7 linked regions of the Homo sapiens genome follow. The protein of the gene in region 1 purifies or fractionates together with the protein of each later gene. This does not show direct contact. Each region holds a gene or a part of one and is shown in the gene's direction. Other genes may lie near its edges. The genes, in order: SLC28A2, DDX46, LUC7L3, SRP54, SRSF11, SFXN1 and DNAAF8.

What was found.
Region 2: the proteins of SLC28A2 (region 1) and DDX46 purify together in Homo sapiens (affinity purification with mass spectrometry; one large-scale study listed by BioGRID and IntAct). This does not show direct contact.
Region 3: the proteins of SLC28A2 (region 1) and LUC7L3 purify together in Homo sapiens (affinity purification with mass spectrometry; one large-scale study listed by BioGRID and IntAct). This does not show direct contact.
Region 4: the proteins of SLC28A2 (region 1) and SRP54 purify together in Homo sapiens (affinity purification with mass spectrometry; one large-scale study listed by BioGRID and IntAct). This does not show direct contact.
Region 5: the proteins of SLC28A2 (region 1) and SRSF11 purify together in Homo sapiens (affinity purification with mass spectrometry; one large-scale study listed by BioGRID and IntAct). This does not show direct contact.
Region 6: the proteins of SLC28A2 (region 1) and SFXN1 purify together in Homo sapiens (affinity purification with mass spectrometry; one large-scale study listed by BioGRID and IntAct). This does not show direct contact.
Region 7: the proteins of SLC28A2 (region 1) and DNAAF8 purify together in Homo sapiens (affinity purification with mass spectrometry; one large-scale study listed by BioGRID and IntAct). This does not show direct contact.

The regions. Positions count from the first base shown.
Region 1 is NC_000015.10:45,250,745-45,255,033, forward strand, and holds the start of SLC28A2 (sodium/nucleoside cotransporter 2), read left to right. Parts: upstream 1-1,489; 5' UTR 1,490-1,534; intron 1,535-2,455; 5' UTR 2,456-2,471; coding exon 2,472-2,552; intron 2,553-2,687; coding exon 2,688-2,776; intron 2,777-3,121; exon of another isoform or gene 3,122-3,190; intron 3,191-4,289.
Region 2 is NC_000005.10:134,828,200-134,831,621, forward strand, and holds the end of DDX46 (probable ATP-dependent RNA helicase DDX46), read left to right. Parts: intron 1-459; coding exon 460-507; 3' UTR 508-2,922; downstream 2,923-3,422. UniProt on the Homo sapiens protein: Component of the 17S U2 SnRNP complex of the spliceosome, a large ribonucleoprotein complex that removes introns from transcribed pre-mRNAs.
Region 3 is NC_000017.11:50,722,603-50,726,102, forward strand, and holds part of LUC7L3 (luc7-like protein 3), read left to right. Parts: intron 1-3,500. UniProt on the Homo sapiens protein: Binds cAMP regulatory element DNA sequence. May play a role in RNA splicing.
Region 4 is NC_000014.9:35,010,492-35,013,991, forward strand, and holds part of SRP54 (signal recognition particle subunit SRP54), read left to right. Parts: intron 1-1,017; coding exon 1,018-1,168; intron 1,169-2,854; coding exon 2,855-3,003; intron 3,004-3,310; coding exon 3,311-3,411; intron 3,412-3,500. UniProt on the Homo sapiens protein: Component of the signal recognition particle (SRP) complex, a ribonucleoprotein complex that mediates the cotranslational targeting of secretory and membrane proteins to the endoplasmic reticulum (ER).
Region 5 is NC_000001.11:70,238,380-70,241,879, forward strand, and holds part of SRSF11 (serine/arginine-rich splicing factor 11), read left to right. Parts: intron 1-1,059; coding exon 1,060-1,141; intron 1,142-3,500. UniProt on the Homo sapiens protein: May function in pre-mRNA splicing.
Region 6 is NC_000005.10:175,513,060-175,516,559, forward strand, and holds part of SFXN1 (sideroflexin-1), read left to right. Parts: intron 1-403; coding exon 404-531; coding exon of another isoform or gene 532-536; exon of another isoform or gene 537-677; intron 678-3,500. UniProt on the Homo sapiens protein: Amino acid transporter importing serine, an essential substrate of the mitochondrial branch of the one-carbon pathway, into mitochondria.
Region 7 is NC_000016.10:4,747,217-4,749,896, forward strand, and holds the end of DNAAF8 (dynein axonemal assembly factor 8), read left to right. Parts: intron 1-126; coding exon 127-409; 3' UTR 410-418; intron 419-1,022; exon of another isoform or gene 1,023-1,508; 3' UTR 1,509-2,180; downstream 2,181-2,680. UniProt on the Homo sapiens protein: In cyliated cells, dynein axonemal particle-specific protein required for deployment of ODA to the axoneme. Interacts with outer dynein arm (ODA) subunits.

The DNA.
Region 1 (4,289 bases):
TGTGGTGGTACACGCCTGTGGTCCCAGCTACTCCAGAGGCTGAGATGGGAGGATCACCTGAGCCCAGAAGTTAGAGGCTGCAATGAGCCATGATAGTGCCATTGCACTCTAGTCTGGGTGACAGAGCAAGACCTTGTCTAAGGAAAAAAAAAAAAAAAAGACAGAGAGCTTGTGCTTGAGGAGATCACTGTCTAGTAGGCGATGGTATGTGCTCTATAGGGTTCAGCAACAACATGGTGCAATCAGAGTGCAGGGAGGGGTCCTAAGTTTTATCCAGAGGGCGTCATAGGAAGCTTTCTTTCTTTCTTTCCAGGCCAGGATAAGTGTTACCAGCTCTGTAAAGTCTTTCTCTCCCTCTTTTTTTTTTTTTTTTTTTTTTTTGAGATGGAGTCTCGCTCACCCAGGCTGGAGTGCAGTGGCATGATCATGGCTCACTGCAACCTCTGCCTCCTGGGTTCAAATGATTCTCCTGCCTCAGCCTCCTGAGTAGCTGAGATTACAAGCCTGCACCACCATGCCCGGATAATTTTTGTATTTTTAGTAGAGATGGAGTTTCGCCATGTTGGCCAGGGTGGTCTCGAGCGCCTGACCTCAAATGATCCGCCTGCCTCTGCCTCCCAGTGTGCTGGGATTACAAGCGTGATTCACCGCGCTCGACCTGCAAAGCCTTTCTTGACACATCCGTCTTTCCTCACTGATCTGTTCGTTTTTTGATGGCAGAGACCTTGTCTCACTCATTTTTATGTCCTCACACGGAAAACGGTGGCTGGCTAATAGTGGTTACTCAATAAGTATTTGTTGAATGGATTAATAAAATAATTCCTAGCAGTCATTTGGCATGGAATCATGTACAGTCGTGCTGTTTATTGTTTTCTAGGGCATGTCTTTCCAGCACAAAATGATGGTAAATTTTCTGGGTGCAGAGACGGCTCTTACTGTATTTTACAGGCTACCCAGTGCCTAGTCCAGTGGTGGGTAATGCTTACAGGAATGTACCTGTTAGAAGTTCTTACAGAATTCTTTTGTTTTGTTTTGTTTTCTGACAGGGTCTCACTCTGTCGCCCAGGCTGGAGTGCAGTGGCGCAATCACAGCTCACTGCAACCTCCACCTCCAGAGGCTCAAGGGATCCTTCCACCTCCGCCTGCCGAGTAACTGGAACCACAGTCGTGTGCCACCGCGCCCAGCTAATTTTTGTATTTGTTGTAGAGATGTGGTTTCGCCATGTTATCCTGGCTGGTCTCAAGCGATCCGCCCGTCTCGGCCTCCCGAAGTGCTGGGATTACGGGCGGGCGCCACCTCTGCATAAGTCTTAGGCCTGCAAAACAGTCTTAAAAACATATAATATTTAACTTGAGAGGTGCAGTCCTCCTCTACATTGAGGGCAGGCTCAGCGAAGGAGGGCCCAAGACATAAAACTAACCAATGGCAGGAAAGCCCCCATGCCCCACCCAAGCTGCCCCTCCTCCCTCGCAGCTGAGCTTTTCTTTCAGTCCTTCACTGAGGAGCCAGAGGGAATCAATTCCACAAGCTGGGGTAAGTAAAGGTGTTTGGGGGAGGGCAGGTGCCTAATTTACAAATTTTTAAAGAGATCATATTTAAACTAAATGCAGGTAGTTTTGTGCCTAGTCAGGAAGGCCCTAATTTACACAATATAAGTTGGTTATGTGTGTTTAATGAAATTATACTTCAAATGCTTGAAGAGATCACATTTTCAAAAGCAATTCCATGGGGAAGGGAATTTTCTGCAAAGTAAATAAATATCTCAGAATGAACTTATATTCTAATTGTGAATGTCCATGTATTAAATTTGCTTATTCTGAGGCCCAAATGTTTGCTTATTTTGTTTAAAAACTTTACTTGGGATCATTAACATTCATACTAATTATTTTAAATGTAAGTTTTGTTAATTTCACTGATGAGTTCTCTCTGGGGCATAAAAAACCAATTCTTATGCTACATTATAGTCAGGAATTTGAAGGCCTGTAAATTGTTATCTGTTCAGCAATACTTTAGGGTCCGGGTCTTCCCAACTGCCTTCCTCCCTGTTTCCTTCTTACTCAGCAAGCTCAGTGGGGCCTCCCTGGGGCTAAAAGGAGTAGTTACCCTGTGACTCTTTCTTTGAGGGTCCAAGTAGGAACCTTTATAGCCCAGATCCTGGGGCCCTGGGCGGCCCACTGATTCATTTCAATTCCACTGCCTTTCATTTCTCTTCTCCTATCTTACTGCCTCTTCTTTAGCTATTCACAAGAGGAAATAGGATTTTATTTTTCATTATTTATTATATAAAAATTACACATCCAATCTTCTCAATTCTCAGTTCTTAAAGAAATCAACTAAGCCTTCAAAGACTTTTAGTTTTGCGTTTTCCATGGGTAACTGGTCCTAAAAATTCTCCCCATCCCCACAGAACAGAATGACCAATCTTTCAGGCTTGGCCCTGAATTTGTTTTTCAGTTGAGGAGAACAGGAGATGGAGAAAGCAAGTGGAAGACAGTCCATTGCTCTGTCCACAGTGGAGACTGGCACAGTGAACCCGGGGCTGGAGCTCATGGTAATCACCAGTTTAGTTTCTCTCTGCAGAGCTGTGGGCTGCTGCATGGGCTCCTGTAGGGTATTTGGCTGCTCTCAATCCCCATCATCCCTGGCAGGGCTCCATGACTGATCCCAATGCTCTCTGTGCTTGTAGGAAAAAGAAGTAGAGCCTGAGGGAAGCAAGAGGACTGACGCACAAGGACACAGCCTGGGGGATGGACTGGGCCCTTCCACTTACCAGAGGTACTGGTGTTTTGGAATCTTGTTCAGTTAGGAAAGGATCTAGGGTGGGCTGCCCCTTCAGGCAGCTTGTGGTATTATCACAACCGCTCCACCTTACCATGTGTACATATATATATGTATCTTACATAATTAATTAACTTAAACATGTGCCATAAACTCCATAAAAAAAAAGGAGTTCAGCAGTATCAGTGTTGGTTGGACTGAAAATAAAAATAATAACAATGGTAATAATGGCTAACAGATTTTGAGTGTATACTTACTATTTTGCAGATTGCTTTATGTTATACATTTATTTTCATTACAACAGGTAGGTATTCATTTTAATCCCTTTAGAAATTAATTTACCATATCATTAAAAAAACAGTAGCTCTTCTGGAATACTCAGATTTGGGAATGGTGGAGAGGAAGGGAAACCTGGGGAGAAAACACAGAAGGACTTATTATAAGGATAATAAAGACAGTAAAAAAGATCTTAGAAGTCAAAAGAGAAGAGTCTCAAGAATGAAGAAGGTACAGTCCACAGTGCTATGTGAACAGGGGTCTAGGAAGGAGGAGTGAGAAAAATCTTTGAATTTGTTTGTGGATCTGGTCCCAGAAGTAATGTCAAAGAAAATTGTTTGAGTAAAATAGATCATATGGAAAGAAGCAATGTTCCATGGTCTGGAAAACAGTGGGTATTTATAAAAGAGTGCAGAAGTCATACACTAAAAGCTGAGAAGAGGACATTGGATAGCTTCTAAAGGGAATACGGTCATGAGCTACATAATGATGTTTCAGTCAATGATGGACCGCATTATACAATGGTGTATAATCATGTATATCAACGGTGTATATCATTACACAACGGTGGTCCCATAAAATTATAATACTGTATTTTTACTGTGCCTTTTCTATGTTTAGATATGTTTAGATACACAAATACTTACCATTGTGCTATAGTTGCCTACAGTATTAAGTACAGAAACATGCTGAACAGATTTGCAGCCTAAGAATAATAGGATCCACCATATAGCTTGGATGTGTCGTAAGCTATACCATCTAGGTTTGCATAAGTACACTGTAAGATGTTAGCATAATTATGAAATTGACTAATGTTGAATTTATCAGAATGTATCCCTGTTGTTAAGTAACACATGACTATATATGGAGATGATTCAGAGCAGCTTCCAAACAAAAGGTTATTTTTATATTTTCTTCTCTTTATTTTTGAAAGTTACCTCAGTGACTTCTTAAAATTTTTAATTGTTTTATTCACAATTTGCTTCTCTCTAAAAATTTTTATATTATCATGTTTTATATATACTGAATTGACAGTAAATTCTTTGTAAGTTTTTCATGCTTACATGATATTTCATATTTTACTTAGCAGTGTGGCCGTTAATCATGTGAGTCACATTGCTTGTGTCTATATTTGAACAGTGGTATGCTAGTAAATGTTTAAGAATTGACTCTCCACCGGGCTAGTGGCTCATGCCTGTAATCCCAGCACTTCGTGAGGCTGAGGTGAGAGGAT
Region 2 (3,422 bases), on another chromosome or scaffold:
TAATTCTGAGAGCTTTTCTAAAATTCCCCTCACAGAGCATTCCTTTTTTTGTTGGGGGGTGGGGGTGGTTAGAAGTTTAATGAAAAGTGGGTTCACAAAACAAGAGGGAAAAAGTAAAACAGCTGTTAAATCATGTGCTTAATACTATTTCACCAAGGAGTGGTCGAAAAGAATCTTGTGCCCATAGATGCTACCACCATTAGGTTGATTCAAAACATAGTTGTTAAGGAATAGTTGAGTGAACAGAGAATTCATTAGTTATTGAATAGTTTTTCCTTTCTCAATGCAGTAATAGTAACATTTAAAATTTTAAATAACCAATAGTTTTATAAGTTGGCAAAGGAAATGATCTTAAATATTTCCTTTTGGGTTTGTTTGGTTGGTTGGTTGGTTCGTTTTTTTTTTTTGTTTTTTTTGTTTTGCTTTCTCTGATGACATATCTTTTATTTCCTATTACAGCAAAATTCATACCAACCAACAAATAAAGGAAGATACAAAGTCTTATAGACATCCGGAAAAAAGATTTTTACCTGTGCTGGTCTATGATGTATGTGGCAGTTGCTGTCTGCAGTTTACAATGTATTGTAAATGAAGATTTTTTAAATTCTATCTTGCTGATTTTTTTTAAATATAAGAAACTGGTACTTGGTAAAGAAATCTGTCCGTAAGTACCCCCACAATCAGTCAAACTATATTTAAAGCCAGCCTGTTTTCAGAGTATGATGTCCTTTAATGTAAACTCAAATATCAATATTTTAAATGTCCGGATAATATTCTAGAGGTTTAAAAAATGGAAATATTTGAACTTTCTATTGAAGACAATAAAGTACACAAGTCGTTAAGGGGCTATTCACTTTATCCTGTACTTTCAATGAAATTGTGATCATTTCCTAAGAAAAGGTAAAATTCACTATCATATTTTGTGTCCCCACCTTGATGTTACATGACTCTGGAACAATATGAACTGGATTTAAGAATGTTATAATAGAAGTCTTACAAAATGGGTTGAGAGTTTTTGTTTCAATTTTTATCATCATAAATGGGCAAAAAGTAGTTGGACTAATTTCGGTTTTTATACAAGTAAAGATTTAATAGTATAAGGATTTTTTTGCATTTCTTTACACTGAGTGTAAAACTCTACAAAGAGTTATAGTATTTACTACTTTGAGGTTTCCCTCACAACTTCTGGCTCCATACCTAGCCCCTCTTTTATAATCTTCCTTAAAAGAAAGAGTGTAGCCTATAAATACTAAATATGATACCTTTTCCTTCTAGAAAGTGTTTATTTATATATCTATACATGTTGTATGTACAAATATCCTACTACTTTTAATCTGATTTTTCTTCAGGATTATTGAGTAGGTTGTGAATTTTCTTTCTTAAAAATTGTAAAACATAATGGTACCCAAGTTTTAAACTTAGATGTGCTTCATCTTAGTGAAATTTAATTCACAAGGAATCATAAATTGTGTTTTTGAGGCTGGGCGCAGTGACTCACACCTGTATCCCAGCAATTTGGGAGGCCGAGGTGGGCAGATCACTTGAGGTCAGGAGTTCAAGACTAGCCTGGTCAACATGGTGAAACCCTGTCTCTACTAAAAATACAAAAATTAGTCGGCATGGTGGTGGGTGGCTGTAATCCCAGCTACTCAGGAGGCTGAGGCAGAAGAATCTGAGCCAAGATAACACCATTGCACTCCAGCCTGGGCGACAGAGTGAGACTATCTCAAAAATAAATAAATAAATAAATAAATAGTATTTTTGAGCCTTCAAGATACAGTTCCTGAATATTCTAATTTAAATTGTTATAATTGGATTACCTAATATTCTTTTCAAGACTCCTGATGTATTAACTTCATGTTATTGTCACTTTTCAAAAAAGGAATTTTTTTCAGGAGTTAAATAAAGTCAGTCTTTTATATCCAAGGGTTTCAAACCCACAGATTAAACCAACCACAGATCAAAAATAGAAAAAAAAAAAAAAAGAAAAAAAGAATGTAAAATTTTAAAAATACAGTTTAACAGCTGTAAAAGTTTTACTATAACATTTACATTGTGTTAGGTATTTTAAGTAATTTAAAGGTTACAGTATACAGGCGGTTAAAGTATACAGGAGGATGTGCATCGGTTATATGCATATAGCAAGCCATTTCATATAAGAGGCTTGAACATCCATGGATTTTGGTATAGAGGAGGGGTTTAAGGGGTGTCCTGCAATCAGTCCCCCTCTCATACCAAAGGATGACTGTATATTTCTTAAATGAAGAGACTTTCATTCTTTAAATATTATTGACTTACAGTTTAAAAATAAATAAATAAAAGCATACTATAGTTGTAAAAACAAATAATTTTAATAGTATATTCAGTGGCTGAAGTGATAGGGAGTATTAATCATTATTTCTTCAGTATAAAGTTATTCTTCCTGAAAAAGTAAGATATACCTGGGAAATATTCTTGGATCCTTCACACATCCACTTAATTTCTTGAAGGAAGAAAACAGACAAAAGACATGTAACAACAGAAACAAATAAACCACTTACTGTAAAATTTCAGAAATTGTGGGCTCATTCCCTCCCTCTAGTTTATTTATTTGCTCATCTTTATCACCTAATGGTAGTTTGTTTTCTTTGGTAGAGTATATGGCAGTCCCACATCGATGATAATTGGTGCTCCCTTCATCCAACTGGATCACTTTGAGATTCAGTTTTACATCATTTTAGCATTTTGTTTGTATATCAGTTGTGATGAGCCACTGATAAAATTTTGTTCTAAAATGAAACATATTACTTTGTTAGTACATTTTTTAGTGTCACACTGACTTTTAAAATTTGAATGATATATAGACTTTGTTTTTTTAATGCAATATGAATATTTGCTCATGTTTTCTAAATTCCTTATAAAATAAAATTAATTCGAATTCAATCTGCACTTTCTTAAAATTATCTTTCCTCAATGCTTTTTCTTTCTTCTGTTTCTCTAATTTTGTTTATGTTGGTGAGAGAAGTATTATACTCTCTATTTTTATTTAAAAAATTCTAGCAACTTATTACCCAAAATATTTATAATTCTGTTCCAAAAATGTCTTCCTGAAGAAGGCTCTTAAGTCTTTTATGTTCATTGTATTTAGCATAAGAGAAACATAGGTGAAATAATAGGTTCATTTACCAGTTGGGGTTTTGCCACAGTGACACTCTTACAAAATGGATATGTAGGCTGGGTGCGGTGGCTCATGCCTGTAATCCCAGCACTTTGGGAGGCTGAGGCAGGCAGATCACCTGGGGTCAGGAGCTCAGGACCAGTCTGACCAACACGGAGAGACCCAGTCTCTACTAAAAATACAAAATTAGCCAGGTGTGGTGGCACATGCCTGTAATCCCAGCTACTCGGGAGGCTGAGGCAGGCGAATCGCTTGAACCCGGGAG
Region 3 (3,500 bases), on another chromosome or scaffold:
ATTAATTTGGTAGTAGATTCTAATACTGTACTTTTTTCTCCTTTTCATGATGGGTAATAAGTGAGCAAGCAGCACTTGCGAAGCGCAGTTTCAAGTGAAGGATGCATCTGTGATGCAAAATCATCGACCATTTATTTGTAATGGTGTGTATGTAACCTTCACCAAGGTATTTTACTGGGGCTAGTGCTTTTACAGGCATTTCCAACTTTGTAGATTGCTACCTCTGGATCTGAGAAACTGCAGCTAAAGTGAAGTCGGCTTTAATACTGTTTCATGGATTCATTGGTACACCCTCCCACCGTGTTTATTTGTATTTTGCAATTGTTTGAGATTATTGTTTTGGTTTTTTGCACTAAGCAATTGCTTGGTTAATCCTAAACAACCACAGTGATGAGGAAAGCATGTGATTGTAACTAACTGCCTAGGGTGAGTACCTTTCAGTGAGGGTTTGATTTCAGTGTTAGCCAGAGAAGGCACTAGTAGCCATATTATTAGAAGATTGTAGTAAATTGTAAAGTCTGATCGGGAGTTTTGTTATTTTTTATGTAGCAAGACAGAAATTTTGTAGTTCAAATTGAGGTTTTTATATTCTAGATCTCAACCTGAAAATGAAATTACTTAATCATTAACACTGATTCTAATATCTGAAATGAGTTTTCTTCCATTTATCAAACTCAAGCCTACCCTTCCTTCCATGAAGGTTTAACATGAAGGTTTAATAATTTATGAAGGAAATTGAACTATGTTCTTTTCTAAAATCTTTGGAATGTTAGCAGATACTGTCATTGACACTGAAAAGTTGTTTAGAAAAGGAAAAATAGCTAAAGCTTCTGTCCACATTTTTTACTTGTATACTTTTTCTTTTTGCTTTAAAAATGTTCAGAATTTGGGAGCAAAAATTGAAAGCAAAAAACTAGTAATTATAATGCATGATGGCATCTATTAATATGTATTTTACTAGTTTTCATTCAGAGTCACCAAAATGTTCATAGTAACTTACTATGTTACTATGGAGTAAGATAGAAAAGCATTTTCTACCCTGCTCCCTGCCCCCCCCCCTTTTTTTTTTTGAGACAGAGTCTAGCTCTGTCACCCAGGCTGGAGTGTAGTGGCATGATCTTGGCTCACTGCAACCTCCACCTCCTGGCCTCAGCGTCCCGAGTAATTGGGATTGCAGGTGTGGGCCACCACGCCCGGCTAATTTTTGTATTTTTAGTCGACAGGGTTTTGCCATATTGGCCAGGCTGGTCTTGAACTCCTGACCTCAAGTGATCGGTCCGCCTCAGTCTCCCAAAGTGCTGAGGTTACAGGCGTGAGCCACTGCGCCCGGCTGGCATTTCCTACCTTACTCCATAGTAAAATAGTAAGTGTTGGCTTCTCAGAATTGCCAGCAGTCCATGTGTTATATGTGTATGTAATTGCTATTTGCTTTTCTTCCCAAAACATACAGAATTAGAGTGAATAGTATAATAAATTGAACTCCCCATGTACCCATGCCCAATTTAGCAATATTAGCACATAGTCAATATTATTTCCTCTGTATCCCTTCCATTATTTTGAAGCAATTCTGTTATTGTCAACCTTAAAGCGGTCATTGTATATCTGTAAAATACAAGGACTTTAAAAAAAAAACATAGCCGACCGGGCATGGTGGGTCACCTGTAATCTCAACATTGGGAGGCCAAGGCAGGCAGATCACTTGAGGCCAGGAGTTCGAGACCAGCCTGGCCAACATGGTGAAACCCTGTCTCTAATAAAAAATAAAAAAATTAGCTGGGCGTAGTGGTGCATTCCTGTAATCCCAGCTACTCTGGAGGTTGAGGCAGGAGGATCCTTTCAACCCAGGAGGCAGAGGTTGCAGTGAGCCGAGATGGTGCCACCACAGTCCAGCCTGGGCAACAGAGTGACACTCTGTCTCAAAAAAAAAATAGAATAAAATAACCACAATACCATAATCACTGAAAATTATAGTAAGGTATTTCGTAAATCTTTGGTTGCTTTAGGAAAATTGTGTGTGTGTGTGTGTGTGTGTGTGTGTGTGTGTCATTATATATGTTATTAGCCTTGATTTCCTCACAAAAGGAGAAGGTAGCTTAAGTTTGTAAATTTGACTTTTTTGCTAATACAGTTCTTCGTTTTATGAAATATTTTCTCTTTTTTTTTTTTTTTTTACCCCCGAGATGGAGTCTTGCTCTGTTGCCCAGGTTGGAGTGCAGTGGTGTGATCTCAGCTCACTGCAACCTCCACCTCCCGGGTTCAAGCGATTCTCCTGCCTCAGCCTCCAGAGTAGGTGGAATTACAGGTGCATGCCACCATGCCTGACTAATTTTTGTGTTGTTGTAGAGATGGGGTTTCACCATGTTTGCCGGGCTGGTCTTGAACTTTTGACAACAAGTGATCCTCCCTCGGCCTCCCAAAGTGCTGGGATTACAGGGGTGAGCCACCATGCCCAGCCTTTCTCTTCATTTCTTATAGTAAGTTAGGAAAATTGTTGTATTCATTTATCCAACAAAAATGTATTGCTCGGCTGGGAGCGGTGGCTCACGCCTGTAATCCTAGCACTTTGCGAGGCTGAGGCGGGTGGATCACCTGAGCTCAGGAGTTTGAGACCAGCCTGGCCAACATGGCGAAACCCTGTCTCTACTAAAAATACAAAAATTAGCCAGGTGTGGTGGCGCACGCCTGTAATCCCAGCTACTCGGGAGGCTGAGGAAGGAGAATCGCTTGAACCCGGGAGGTGGAGGTTGCAGTGAGCCGAGATCACGCCACTGCATTCCAGCCTGCGTGACAGGAGCAAGACTCCATTTCAAAAAAAAAATTAAAAGTATTGCTCTTAGGTAGATAACAGCAGGATAGTACAGATACAGCACTTGGTCCTAAAGAGCCATCATGTATTGGTGACAGTAAATGCACTTTTTTTTTCCAATGGGGATTATTCCAATTGAATGTAAACGCATTTCCATAACAGAATATGATAAATCCTACCATTGGGAAAAGTAAAATTGACCCTTGAACAACACGGGTTTGAGTTGAGTGTGTCCATTTATACGTGGAGTTTTTTCAATAAATATATTGGAACATTTTTTGGAGATTTGCAACAATTTGAAAAAACTTGAAGACGAATCACATAGCTTAGAAATATTTTTAAAATTTAAGAAAAGATAAGTACATCACAAATACATAAAATAGATGTATATACTAGTTTATCATTTTCCTACCACAAAATACATACGAATCATAAAAAGTTAAACTTTATAAAAACTTATGCACACAGTACATGGTGCCACTAGCAGTCCAGAGAAAGTAAAGCTTGAGTAATAACTGCATAAAATTAACTATAGTACATACTGTAATACTGTAATAATTTTGTAGCCACCTGTTGCTATTACAGTGAGCTCAAGTGTTGCCAGGCTCCACTTAAAATGCCCTATGACCTGTGACTCTTGATAATCTCTGCATGAGCAGTTGGTGTCTAAAGTAAATTGCATATCACAGTAAAA
Region 4 (3,500 bases), on another chromosome or scaffold:
CATGATGGCTCATGCATGTGATCCCAGCATTTTGGGAGGCCAAGGCGGGCATATCATGAGGTCAGAAGTTTGAGACCATCCTGACCAACATGGTGAAACCCCGTCTTTACTGAAAATACAAAAATTAGCCAGGCCTGGTGGCAGGCGCCTGTAATCCTAGCCACTTGGGAGGCTGAGGCACGAGAATCCCTTGAACCCAGGAGGCAGAAGTGGCAGTGAGCCGAGATCGCACCACTGCACTCCAGCCTGGGCAACAGAGTGAAACTTTGTCTCAAAAATAAATAAATAAATACATAAAAATTAAAAAAAAAATTGGAAAAACGTCAAATGTCTAATAGTAGGGCGTTATTTAATAAATGATACAGCCATCTGATAGAATGCTGTATAACCTCAAGGTTATGTGTTACAGAAATATTTTTTCTTTTTTCACCCGTGTTAATTTTTAAAGAGACATGCCATGGTCTTGCTCTGTTGCCCAAGTTGGAGTGCAGTTGCATGATCATAAGCTCACTGCAGTGTCGAACTCATGGACTCAAGTGGTCCTCCTGCCTCAGTCTCCCAAGTGGCTGGGACTATAGGCATATTCCACTATGCCAGCTAGTTTTTTTTTTTTGTAGAGATGGAATCTCACTATATTGCTCAGGCTTGTTACAAGAATATCTACTGGTTTTATAAAATGCTTCCAAATGGATGTTAAATGGAAAAATGTGTGAAACACTGTGAGCATGAGTTCAATTATTAAAGAAGATATAAAAAATAAATTTGAAGGAGACACAATTCATTCAAAAAAGACATGCAGTAGAATCATACTGGGTTTTGGAATTGGAAAATTGGATAATGCTTCATGCTTTTTTAGAAGTAGATTCTGTATTTAATACTTTATAGATTTTCCTCTTCTAAATTGAAATTGGGGTCATTTTGGCTTTTTCAAAATAGATTATAGGTAAATTAACTTTCCGAATTAGTAGTATTTGGAAGTTTTGTCGTTTTGTTAAATCATTTGTCCATGTTATATAGCTATACAGAAATGGATCCTGTCATCATTGCTTCTGAAGGAGTAGAGAAATTTAAAAATGAAAATTTTGAAATTATTATTGTTGATACAAGTGGCCGCCACAAACAAGAAGACTCTTTGTTTGAAGAAATGCTTCAAGTTGCTAATGCTATAGTAAGTAGCTTTCAATGTAACACTATTATTAGGACTTTGGTTAATTTAATTATAAAACCAGGTTGAGTATATGACCAATATAAATTATTCTTTGCCTGTGAGGCAGATCCCCAGTAATTTATTTTTGTTTTGGGCACCTATATCTATGTGGTAGGGACTTAATTTCATTATTTTTGTTCTCCATTAAATATAAAATTTTCATAAGTATGAAAAAGTAATTTCCTTTCTCAGTCATCCTATTAGTATGCATAAGAAAACATTTAAAAATTAGTAATTAGGCCGGGTATGGTGGCTCACATCTATAATCCCAGCACTTTGGGAGGCCAGGGCGGATGGATCACAAGGTCAGGAGTTCAAGATCAGCCTGGCCAACATGGTGAAACTCCGTCTCTACTAAAAATACAAAAATTATCTGGGCATGGTGGTGGGTGCCTGTAATCCCAGCTACCTGGGAGCTGAGGCAGGAGAATAGCTTGAACCCGGGAGGCAGAGGTTGCAGTGAGCCAAGATCACGCCATTGCACTCCAGCCTGGGCAACAAGAGCAAAACTCCATCTCCAAAAAAAAAAAAAAAAAAAATTAGTAATTAGCCTTTAGTTTCTGTTGAATTTCCTTTTTAAAAATTCAGTTGGAAATACTTAGATTTTTAAATACTTTAAAAAATATTAATTATCATTTTGTGTCTCTTTAAAAGTGTGATGGAAACAATTTGGGGGAGGAGAAGCAGTTTATAGATATCTGCAGCATATATTATTAGGAACCCACGTCTTGACATTGGAGTGTTAGCAGTAATTCTTTGGTTTGTGGTTAATGCTAATAAGTTTCTTTTCAGTTATGTTGTTATTTTGACCAAGTTGAGCAGATCTAAGGGAAGTAGCCTCAAGTATATTTTATCCGTTTTCAGTATACACTCTTCTACTTTGATTTGCCTTTGTACTTTTTTTGCCTAGATTGCCATTCTTTCAAATCTTTGCATATAACCTTTTCCTCTTTATTCAGGCCTCAGCTCAAACATTAGGTCCAGAGAGGCCTTCCCTGACTACCTTACTAGAAAATGCCTCCCATACTTCAAAACTGATACTCTGTATCCCATTTTCGTTGTTATACATCTGAAATGTTTATCTATTTATTATATATGTCCTCTGACTAGAATGCAAGTTTCTTAGGACAAATATTTTCTCATTTACCTTTTTGTTCTCATGACCTAGATGGTACCTGATAATACATAGTACTTCAACAAATATTTATGGATTGAATAATTATTTATAGTGTAAATGTTGTAGTTTTTTTTTTTTTTTTTTTGAGATGGAGTTTCACTCTTGTCGCCCAGGCTGGAGTGCAGTGGCATGATCTCAGCTGACTGCAACCTCTGCCTCCCGGGTTCAAGTGATTCTCCTGCCTGAGCCTCTCAAGTAGCTGGGATTACAGGCACTCGCCACCATGCCTGGCTAATTTTTGTATGCTAATTTTTGTATTTTTAGTAGAGACGGGGTTTTCACCATGTTGGCCAGGCTGGTCTTGAACTATCTCAGGTGATCCACCTGGCTCGGCCTCCCAAAGTGCTGGGATTACAGGCATGAGCCACTGCACCTGGCTCTAAATATTGTTTTATAGCTTCTAATGATGACATTTGCTTAGGATCAATAAAAATCTTTTCTAAAGTATCTTTTCTATTTAAACTTTCTAGCAACCTGATAACATTGTTTATGTGATGGATGCCTCCATTGGGCAGGCTTGTGAAGCCCAGGCTAAGGCTTTTAAAGATAAAGTAGATGTAGCCTCAGTAATAGTGACAAAACTTGATGGCCATGCAAAAGGAGGTGGTGCACTCAGTGCGTAAGTATCATTGATACTGTTGTCCTCTGTCTTGGGATTATATGGGGAAGGATATGTGTTTATAGCTTTCATATTGATCATTTAAAATATGTTTCAATAGTGAGCCTAATATGGTTTATAAAGAAAGTTTAAATAGAAACAATTTTGGAGCCTGTCTGATATAGGTCTATTATAACTTGTGAAATGAAACTTGAGTTTTGTACCTTTGTCTAATTAGCTTTGGAGGCGGATTCACTTCGAATTTCAGATCTGCTGGAAATTTGTGGGGTTCTTTTGAGGTTATTTTATATTTTCTTTTTTTTTCCAGAGTCGCTGCCACAAAAAGTCCGATTATTTTCATTGGTACAGGGGAACATATAGATGACTTTGAACCTTTCAAAACACAGCCTTTTATTAGCAAACTTCTTGGTATGTACAGTGGTGGGGATATAGAAAAATCTCCAAGAAATACGATGTATCTTTAGGACAAAATAGGATTTTAATTCTGTCCTCACTAA
Region 5 (3,500 bases), on another chromosome or scaffold:
CCAATATTTTTATGAATTTATTATAATGACATTCACAATAAATTGAACCCTATTAATGAAATGACTTAAATGTAAAAGAAACTCAATCTCACTTTGATGATAGTCAGTGAATGTAGAATACAATGACTTTATTTCTCTTGTTATGTCCCCAGTTAAGGAATTTCTTATGTGTAGTTCTAGATTTCCTTTCTATATTTACACAATTGAAAATTGGTAGGGAAGAGGAGTGATGAGCAGATAATAGGAAGCGAGCTAGCTTACTAAAATCTGATTCTGTCACAGAAGTGGACTAAAATCAGTGAGTGAATCATGACTTTCTGCATTTGGGGGCCAAATATTGAGTCTGTGAAGAATCAAGGAAAGGAAAGGGGACCCCTCATTTAGAACCTTGTCAAGAGTAAATCAGAGCCAGAGAATGAGAAATTTACCCTCTTTATAGACTGCTTTACAGAAAACACTTCACAGCCTCTTAAGTCTGGCAAGTAAAATAGGCAAAGGAACCTTTAGCTAGCTGAGAATTAGAAGTCTAATTTGGATCTACCAAAAGCTTGGATGATTTGCAATTTATAGTATTTCAGTAAGCTTCAAAATCGTGATTATAAAATGGTTACTTGTGACATTCAAGGGTTGTATGTAAAAGCTGAAAACTAAGGTGAAAAATTATTAGAATAACTTCTGAAAGGGAATAATCTTCCTATTTGATGTGTTTTTTTGTTTGCTTGTTTTTGTTTTTGAGGGGTCTCACTCTGTTGCCGAGGCTGGAGTGCAGTGGTGCAATCACAGCTCACTGCACCGTCCATCTCCAGGCTCAAGCAATCCTCCCAGCTCAGCCTCCCCAAGTACCTGGGACCACAGGCACACACCGCCATGCCCAGCTAATTTTTGTATTTTTTGTAGAGATGAGGCCTCACTATATTGCCCAGGCTGGTCTTGAACTCCTGGACTGAAGTGTTGCTCCCACTTCAGCCTCTCATAGTGCTGTGATTACAGGCATGAGCCACTGCGTCTGGCCCCTATTTAATAACTTCTAAATGCAGGTTCCTTTTCTTTTAAATATAGATAAGAAAGAAGAAAAAAGAAGGCATTCAAGATCAAGATCACGTTCTAGGAGGAGGAGGACTCCCTCATCTTCTAGACACAGGTTAGATTGCTTTTTAGTCAATTATACCTTAGACAAAGATAATTTATATATGTCACATCTTTTTTAATTTGCTGTTAATCTGTTATCCTCTGGTTAAAGTGTTTTAGTAACCTCTGCTGTTAGAATGTGTGAATGACTGTTCACACATGTAAAAAGTAAGAAAAGCGACAGACGAAATAGATGATTTATGCTTTAAAACCCCCAAAAATTCAGAGGTGGTAGGAAAGCATTGGAACTAGAGCAACAAAATGAAAAATAATTGATTCATTGAATTATACAAGTTTCCAAATACTGACTTGTATTTGTTATCTAGTGTCAAAAAGTGACATCTGGTAATATCACCTTAGATCAGATCAGTAAAATGCAAGTACTAGGAATCTGGCATGCTCACAACAATGGAGTCATTTTCCAAAATTTAATTTTCTCAGATTTTTATCATTGGCAACAGATTCATCTATTTTCCTTATATAATAGACTTCATTTATTTTTCAAAAAATTGTCTGCCAAATACCCAAGTCTAATTAATCATAGTTTCTAGATTCTCAAAGGTGATAATGAAAAAGCAGTTAGTTCAGCTCATAACTCAACACAGGTGTCTTCCTTAATACAGCCATTATACTTCATAAGCATCAGAAGTGATTTATGCATACTTTCCATTTCATCACACAGAATATTACTCAAGAGACTAGATTTAATTCTGCTACTATATTAATAGTACTGAAGGGGGATTTAATAAAATTAACTTTACTGCTTCATCAAAGACATCTTTATAAAAGTGGCATTATTTTTTTCTTTTACTGCAAGTGCATACAGAAATGCCAGTGAAGAAGATAGTGAGTGACTCCTAGGGCAGTTCAATAGCCCCTACCTTGATTTGTGTTGAAGAGTCAGTATTTTTACCCACTATGGCTTTTGTGACATTGGTGCAAACGTCAACACAGTGGAAAAGGCAATAATTTGTTATTACTTTGAAAATAATTTTGACCTTATGGACCCCATAAAAGGGTCTTAGAGCATCCACAGTTGTGCAAACGACAATATAAAAGCCATTGCTCTAGGTTATTCACCAACTATTTCAGCCATTCTTCGATTTTCTTAATTTCCAAACTCAATCCTAATTGGCCTAGTTGCATCCTAGTTCTTCTAGTCAGAACCCTTTAGGATTGACATTCAGAACTAGGATATTCCAGTTGTGGTTATTTACTTCAGCCAGTTTCAGCTTCACTTTACATACCCCTCCATCACTGGACTTTTTTTTTTTTTTTTTTTTTTGAGACGGAGTCTCACTCTTGTTGCCCAGCCTGGAGTGCAATGGCACGATCTTGGCTCACCACAACTTCCGCCTCCTGAGTTCAAGCAATTCTGCCTCAGCCTCCCGAATAGCTGGGATTACAGGTGTGTGCCACCATGCCTGGCTGATTTTGTATTTTTAGTAGAGACTGGGTTTTTCCATGTTGGTCAGGCTCATCTCAAACCCGCGACCTCAGGTGATCCACCCACCTTGGCCTCCCAAAGTGCTGGGATTACAGGTGTGAGCCACCATGCCCGGCCATTCACCACTTGACTCTTAAACCTTCACTCCTGGCTTCATCTCTTCTGGAACCTAGTTCTGTCAGTTGTCTGCCTTTTCTTAGTGTCCGTTACCCCTTAGTTTTTACCAAGGGTTAGATAAAACCATTTCTCCTATTTATTGTCAGGATTTTTGAAAGAGCAGTGTGACTTGAATCCTAGACTTTGTCACGTCTCTATTAAAAGCACTTATATCATAAAATATCTAAAAAGTCACATTTCTGTCTCAGAGATGATCTTTTCACTCTGTTTTTATCTTTTAATATCATTTTCTTATTTTAAGTCATTTCTTGAAGTATTACAGGGGTTATCCTGTATGCTATGTCTGTTTATTCCCTGTCACCCACCTTATCCCACTGTCTTATTCTTAGAGTTGTCTTTCAGAAACCCAAATACAGATCATGTCACAGATACTGAGAAGTTCCTTATTGCCTTGATAAGGTGATACATAAAACCTTAGAATGGCTTTCAGGGTTCTTTACTATTCCGTCTGGTTTATCTTTTTACACGTGTCATTTGCCACTCCAAAAGTTACAGGACTAATTGCCTCAACATACCATTTTCTTTATGTCTTCATGTTTCTGCTCATGATCCTTTCTGCCTAATGCTTTTCCACATCTTCCATTTCCGCTTTGAGGAACTCCTTTTTCTTTCTTCAAGATACAATGCTTGCAGTCTTAATCTTCCATGACAGTGCTCTCATAGTTTAGTTTAACCTCTGCAATAGGATATACCTCATGATTACTACAATTTATATGTGTTTCCTTTTACCAAACTCTTAGGAAAAAGG
Region 6 (3,500 bases), on another chromosome or scaffold:
GGAGGCCGAGGCGAGTGGATCACCTGAGGTCAGGAGTTCAAGACCAGCCTGGCCAACATGGCAAAACCCCGTCTCTACTAAAAATACAAAAATTGGCCGGCACACTGTCACATGCCTGTAATTCTAGCTACTCGGGAGGCTGAGGCAGGAGAATCGCTTTGAACCCGGGAGGCAGAGGTTGCAGTCAGTGGAGATAGCCACCACTACACTCCAGCCTGGGCAACAGAGTGAGACTGTAAAAAAAAAAAAAAAAAAAAAAAAAAAACAGATGTGTCAGTACCAAAAATGACACTTGAGTGGGTATTTGAATTAAGTAGAGGGTTGATCTTTCCCAACATAGTACTATTTCAGGACGTTTATTGAAGGCATTGGTGGAGCTCTCTGTATGTGTTTTGCTCTGCAGGGAACTCAAAGTTGGCATTCCCGTCACGGATGAGAATGGGAACCGCTTGGGGGAGTCGGCGAACGCTGCGAAACAAGCCATCACGCAAGTTGTCGTGTCCAGGATTCTCATGGCAGCCCCTGGCATGGGTTAGCAGGACTTTGTCATTTATTCCATAAATACAGGTTGAACCAGCGTTCACGGATCCGTGAACCAGAAAACAAACACATATATCACACCTCTTAGTGGAAATTGCCTTCCACTGGGGGTGGCAGAAAATAAACAAGTAAATAAAGTATGTAGTATGTGCAGTGGTGATGAGGGCAAGGGGGCAATGGGGCTAGGGCGTGTGGGTAGGGCAGCCGGGGAAGAGCACTGGGTGGAGGTGTGGGAGTGAGCCAAGTGGGTATCGGTGATGAATATTCTGGCAGAGGGAACCACAGGCAGGAGTTTGCCTGGTGTGTTACAGGCATTACGGGTGCAGGTGCAGCTGGGGCACAGTGGGAGGGGTGGGGAGCAGTAGGAAGGGAGTCAGGAGGCCACAGACGGCAGAGCGTGGATGGCAGCCCTGGCGTTTCACACCTGGGTTTTAGTCTGAGAGGTAAGAAGCCAGGCAGGGTTTTGCATACAGGAGCAGCACAGTCTGACTTAGGTTTTATCTGTGTGACTCTGGGTGGTGGGTTGAGAATAGGCTGAAGGAGAATGAGAATATTCAGTGGAGGCTGTGCGGGGAGGCTGCCTCAGTAATCCAGGCAAGAGGCAGTGATGGGCTGGACCAGGGCCATACAGTGGGAATTTGACCAGAAGGAACTGATGGAGCAAATTGGAATGGTTAGAGCAGCTACTGATAAAATGTGTGCCAAGCAACTGCTCAGGTTTCCCTATAGGGACTGGGGTCAGAATGACCAAAAATAGAAAGTCTACATTGTATTTAGTTCTGCTGAGAATCTCTAGTCCACCCTAAGGCTGCTTAGAGCTACCTTCAGACCAGGGGCCTAAAGAAAGTTCTCAGACTGAGAAATCAGAGGGCCTGGCAGTTAGAGTGCTCTTCACAGAAAAAAAACAGAAATTAGTATGTTTAATTTTCATCATCTAAACTGAATGCAAACAGCGCTTGGCAATTAAAATGAAGCTCTCCAATGAAGTATACTTCATCAGCTGCTGTCAAGTCATCCATTGATACTGTTTTGCGGTTTTTAAATTCCTTTTGTCACTGTGACTGCTCATCAGCAGGCAAGGAAGAGCAGGCAACAAAAGTTGAAAAGTGCATGAAGGAAAACTTTGAGGAATATGATATTCACATTCCAGCAAATTGGGGGAAAACTGCTATTATCTGGTTTAACACAGGAGTGCCTTGGTGCCCTGCCTGAGGCTAATGTGTTCTGTAGGGGTGGCTGCACAGCCACAGTCCTGAAACATGGGAAAGCATCTCCTGAGTCCAGGGACCAGCACGTTTGTCACTAACCTAAAAGGAGGCTATGGAGCCCACCCCGGTGTTCCTACTGAGCCCTGATTTCCAGATTTGCTGAAATCGAGGTTGCGGCTCCAGCTTCTGCCCTGGGTTTGGTTTGTTGTTGTCGTCGTTGTTTTTGAGACAGGATATTGCCCTGTCCCTCAGGCTGGAGTGCAGTTGCTGTGATCATGGCTCACTGCAGCCTCAACTTCCCTGAGCTCAGGTGATCCTCCTACCTCAGCTTCCCCAGTAGCTGGGACTACAGGCGTGCGCCACCACACCCAGCTGATTTTTGTATATTTTGTAGAAACAGGGTTTTGGTATGTTGCCCAATTAGTCTAGAACTCCTGGGCTCAAATGATCCACCCACCCCGAATGCTAGGTATACAGTTGTGAACCACCATGTCCGGCCCTGGGTTTGCTTTTGATTGTGGTCTTTTCTGTTTTGAATTGCCTTACTCCTCTTAGAGTTCAGCCAGTCCAGACGGACAAATCCATTTCTAGTGATTTGGTTATTTTAAACACTATTTAGTCCCCAGAGAAGAAATACAATCTTTCTGTCCTAGTGCAATTTATAAGAGTAATTGACATATTGAAATAGTGGATATGACAGTTTAGCCTGATAAAAGTTGTCAGCAAATGAACGAATGCTGTCCACCGCATACCCAGTGTTTTACATGCAGTATTGTCTCCAATTTCCTCCATTTTATAGAAAAAGAAAACAGAAAGCTGAGGCTCAGAGAAGTTAGGTAACTTCTCCAGGGTCACCCAGCTAGCAAGTGGTCTAGCCCAGCGGTCCCAAACCTTTTTAGCACCAGGGACCCATTTCATGGAAGACAATTTTTTCATGGACCAGGGGTCAGGGGGATGGTTTCAGGATGATTCAAGCACGTTAAATGTATTGTGTACTTTAGTTCTATTATTATTACATTGTAACATATAATGAAATAATTAGACAAGTCACCATCATGTTGAATCAGTGGGAGCCCTGAGCTTGTTTTCCTGCAGCTAGACAGTCCCGTCTGGGGGTGATGGGAGACAGTGACAGATCATCAGGCACTAGATTCTCATAAGGAGCGGGCAACCTAGATCCCTTGTATGTGCAGTTCTCAATGGAGTTCAGGCTCCTGTGAGAATGTAATGCGGTCGCTGACCTGACAGGAGGCAGAGCTCAGGCGTAATGCAAGCAATGGGGAGCAGCTGTAAATACAGCTAAAGCTTCATTCACTTGCCCACTGCCCTCCTCCTGCTGGGCAGCCCTATTCCTAACAGGCCAGAGATCCATACCAGTCCATGGCCCAGGGGTTGGGGCCCCTGGTCTAGCCTGTACGGAAGCAGTTTCTGCCTGACTCCAAGGCAGGATTCTTTACACCATCCTCCCTGCCTTGTGCCCTTTGTTTTATTAATATAGGAAGAAAAAGTTCCTGATATTTTTATTTTTGTCTACTTAAACCTAAAAGTAAAGTTCTTTTCAAGATTATAAAACTTTCTGGCTGGCAGAGGATGTGATATTACTGTTCAAAAATTTAGAAAATCAGAACAGTTTTCAATCTAATGAATTCAAATGTAATAATTTAAAGAATTGCTACAAACTGTTTTTACTGTGACAGTGGAAATAGCCTAAAAGTGACAGAAGCTTTCTGTCAAATGGTTGAAAAAAAAAGT
Region 7 (2,680 bases), on another chromosome or scaffold:
TGCCTGAATTGCATTCTTGCTCTGAAATGGGAGCTGGGCTCATCTGCTTTTCTCCTGTTTCAGTAAGGAGGGCTGGGAGGGGCGGCCCCCACGGGGTTGAGTGAATTTGGTCTCATTGTGTCACAGGACCTGTACCGGGAAAAGCCAGCTTCTCCAGCAGCTCAGGGCCTTTCAGAAGGGGACAGCCCAGCCCGAGCTGCCTGCCAGCAAGGGGCCCGCGGGTGGGAGGGCTCAGGCCCCTGAAGACACAGCTGGATCACGAACTGGGAGGAAGCAACACATGAAGCTCTGTGCCAAGGGGCAGAGCGCCCAGGCTCGACTCCCAAGAGGCAGGCCCAGAGCCCTGGGGGATGTTCCTGAGCCAGGGGCAGCCAGGGAGGCCCTGATGCCTCCTCTGGAGCAACTATAGCTGCCTCAGGTAGTGGGATCCCAGGAGTGGGCAGGGGCGGGCTGACTTGCCATGGACCCTGGGCCCCGGTGTCCCCTTGTTGTTCCTGCATTTCCACTAGCAGGGGCATTCCAGAGGCAGGGACCCTCAGACTTTGGACTGTTGCCCACCCTGTTAGAGCTCAGTCACAGGTGCATGAACTTAGAGGAAGGATGCAGATACAAATCTGTATGTAACCTGTGACAACAGCTTTGGGATAAAGGGGCCTGGTCCTCTGAGGGAGATGGGCAGGGACAGCAGGAGGACGGGGTGCTGCTCTCTGCGGGACTCTGAGGCTCTTCATCTTTCTCCAGTTCTGCATTTTTTTAAACAGGCATCTATTATTTCCATCAATAAGGTCTTTTTAAAAACCAAGTAAAACGTATTTAGAGGATTTTAGGGTTGAAAGAGACCTAAGCCTTATTTTCTGGCTTCCTGCATACTTGCTATTTTGGGCACCTAAATTAACACACGACACACACATGCCTACCCACACAGATCTAATACACGTGGTTTTTTCTCTTTTCGAGACGCAGCAGCTGGGACTACAGGTGCACACCACCATGTCCAGCTAATTTTTTTTTTTTTTTTTTTTGTAGAGATGGGGTCTCACGGTGTTGCCCAGGTTGGTCTGGAACTCCTCTCAATCCTCCTGCCTAGGCCTTCCACAGTGCTGGGATTATAGCACTGTGAGCTGCCAGCCTGGCTTTTAATGAACTTTTTGAAAGAGGAGTAACGAGAATTTGCTTTCTCTTTCTCTTCTTTACCTAAGATAGAAAGGCACACATAGATTCTCAAGGCCTTTGACCTTTATGAATCTAGACAGAATACTGGAAACCCCTGGAAATGCTGTCCTGTGTAGAATGGAGCAGCGGCCTCACTTGTTGATCACCAGCAAAAACTGGGGACATCTGCTTGCCCCCTGCCAAGACCCGGCCCCTCCACAGGACAAGCCTGGTCTTCCTGGGTCCTGTTCCTTTGCCAGCACCGTCTTGCAGCCCCGTCTTCACGGGATGCTTTTGTAACTGCTGTGATCAGCCCTGACCTGGGCACCTGTTTGTCTCCCCAACCTTGTCTCCAGGATGTGTCCTGCTGTCTGCCCCGTGGGAAGAGCAGAGAAATCATCACCACCTTGGGCCCCACGGTGCCACGGGCTCAGGCAGCACAGTAGGGCGCCGGGCCTTTGGGACAGTGTCCCAGCTTCCCCTGGGGTTCACCCCTGGCTGCCAGGCCACTGAGGATGGGCAGGGGTCTCTTCTCATCAAGCCTTGTACCAGGCAAAAGACAGGCCCTGCTTGGCCGTGGTCACTGGCCGCCAAGATCAGGGCTACAGATGTCTGCTCTCTGGACCCCACGTGATCTGGCCACTGGGGACCCCCACCCGACCCCACTCCCAATGATGAGGGGCATTTTCATTGCAAGTCAAAGGCAAGACAGGCTTCCATAAAGTCCCAGGAGGTCCCTCCTGTAGGGCACAAGGCCAGGCTGCCTCCCAGCCCCCAGGCCCTCTCCCACCTACAGAGACCCTCCCCTGCCCCCTCCACTCCGGGGCCTGTGCCGCCAGAACCGGGCTCTGCCCCCATACGCTGCCCTCGCAGCCTGGCGGCCTCCGCTGTGGCTGCCTAGCTGTCAAGAGCAAAGGCTTTTTTTTTCTTCAACCCCATTTTCTTCCATTTCTCCCACCTTTTTAATGCCAGTAACCTCACTGAGAATGTTTTACAGTGATGGAAAATAAACTCTGTTCCAAGTTCAACTCTGAATTACTGTGTCTGTCAAGGCAAGGGGAGTGAGGTAGGAAGTCAGACCTGCGTCCAAAGCTGGCTCTGCCACCTGGGCAAGGTTTTCACGCTCCCAGTGCCCAGTTCCTCCACCCACAGAAGGAGAATCATGGCCGGGCGCGGTGGCTCACGCCTGTAATCCCAGCACTTTGGGAGGCCGAGGTGGGTGGATCACAAGGTCGGGAGTTCAAGACCAGCCTGACCAACATGGAGAAACCCCATCTCTACTAAAAATACAAAAATTAGCCAGGCGTAGTGGTGCGCACCTGTAATCCCAGCTACTCAGGAGGCTGAGGCAGGAGAATCACTTGAACCTGGGAGGTGGAGGTTGTGGTGAGCCAAGATCGTGCCTTGCACTCCAGCCTGGGTAATGAAGTGAGACTGTGTCTCAAAACAAAACAAAAAAAGGAGACTAATGGGAGTCCCCCCTCACTGGACTGCATGAGATAACATCACAGCACACGCAGGCACCTGG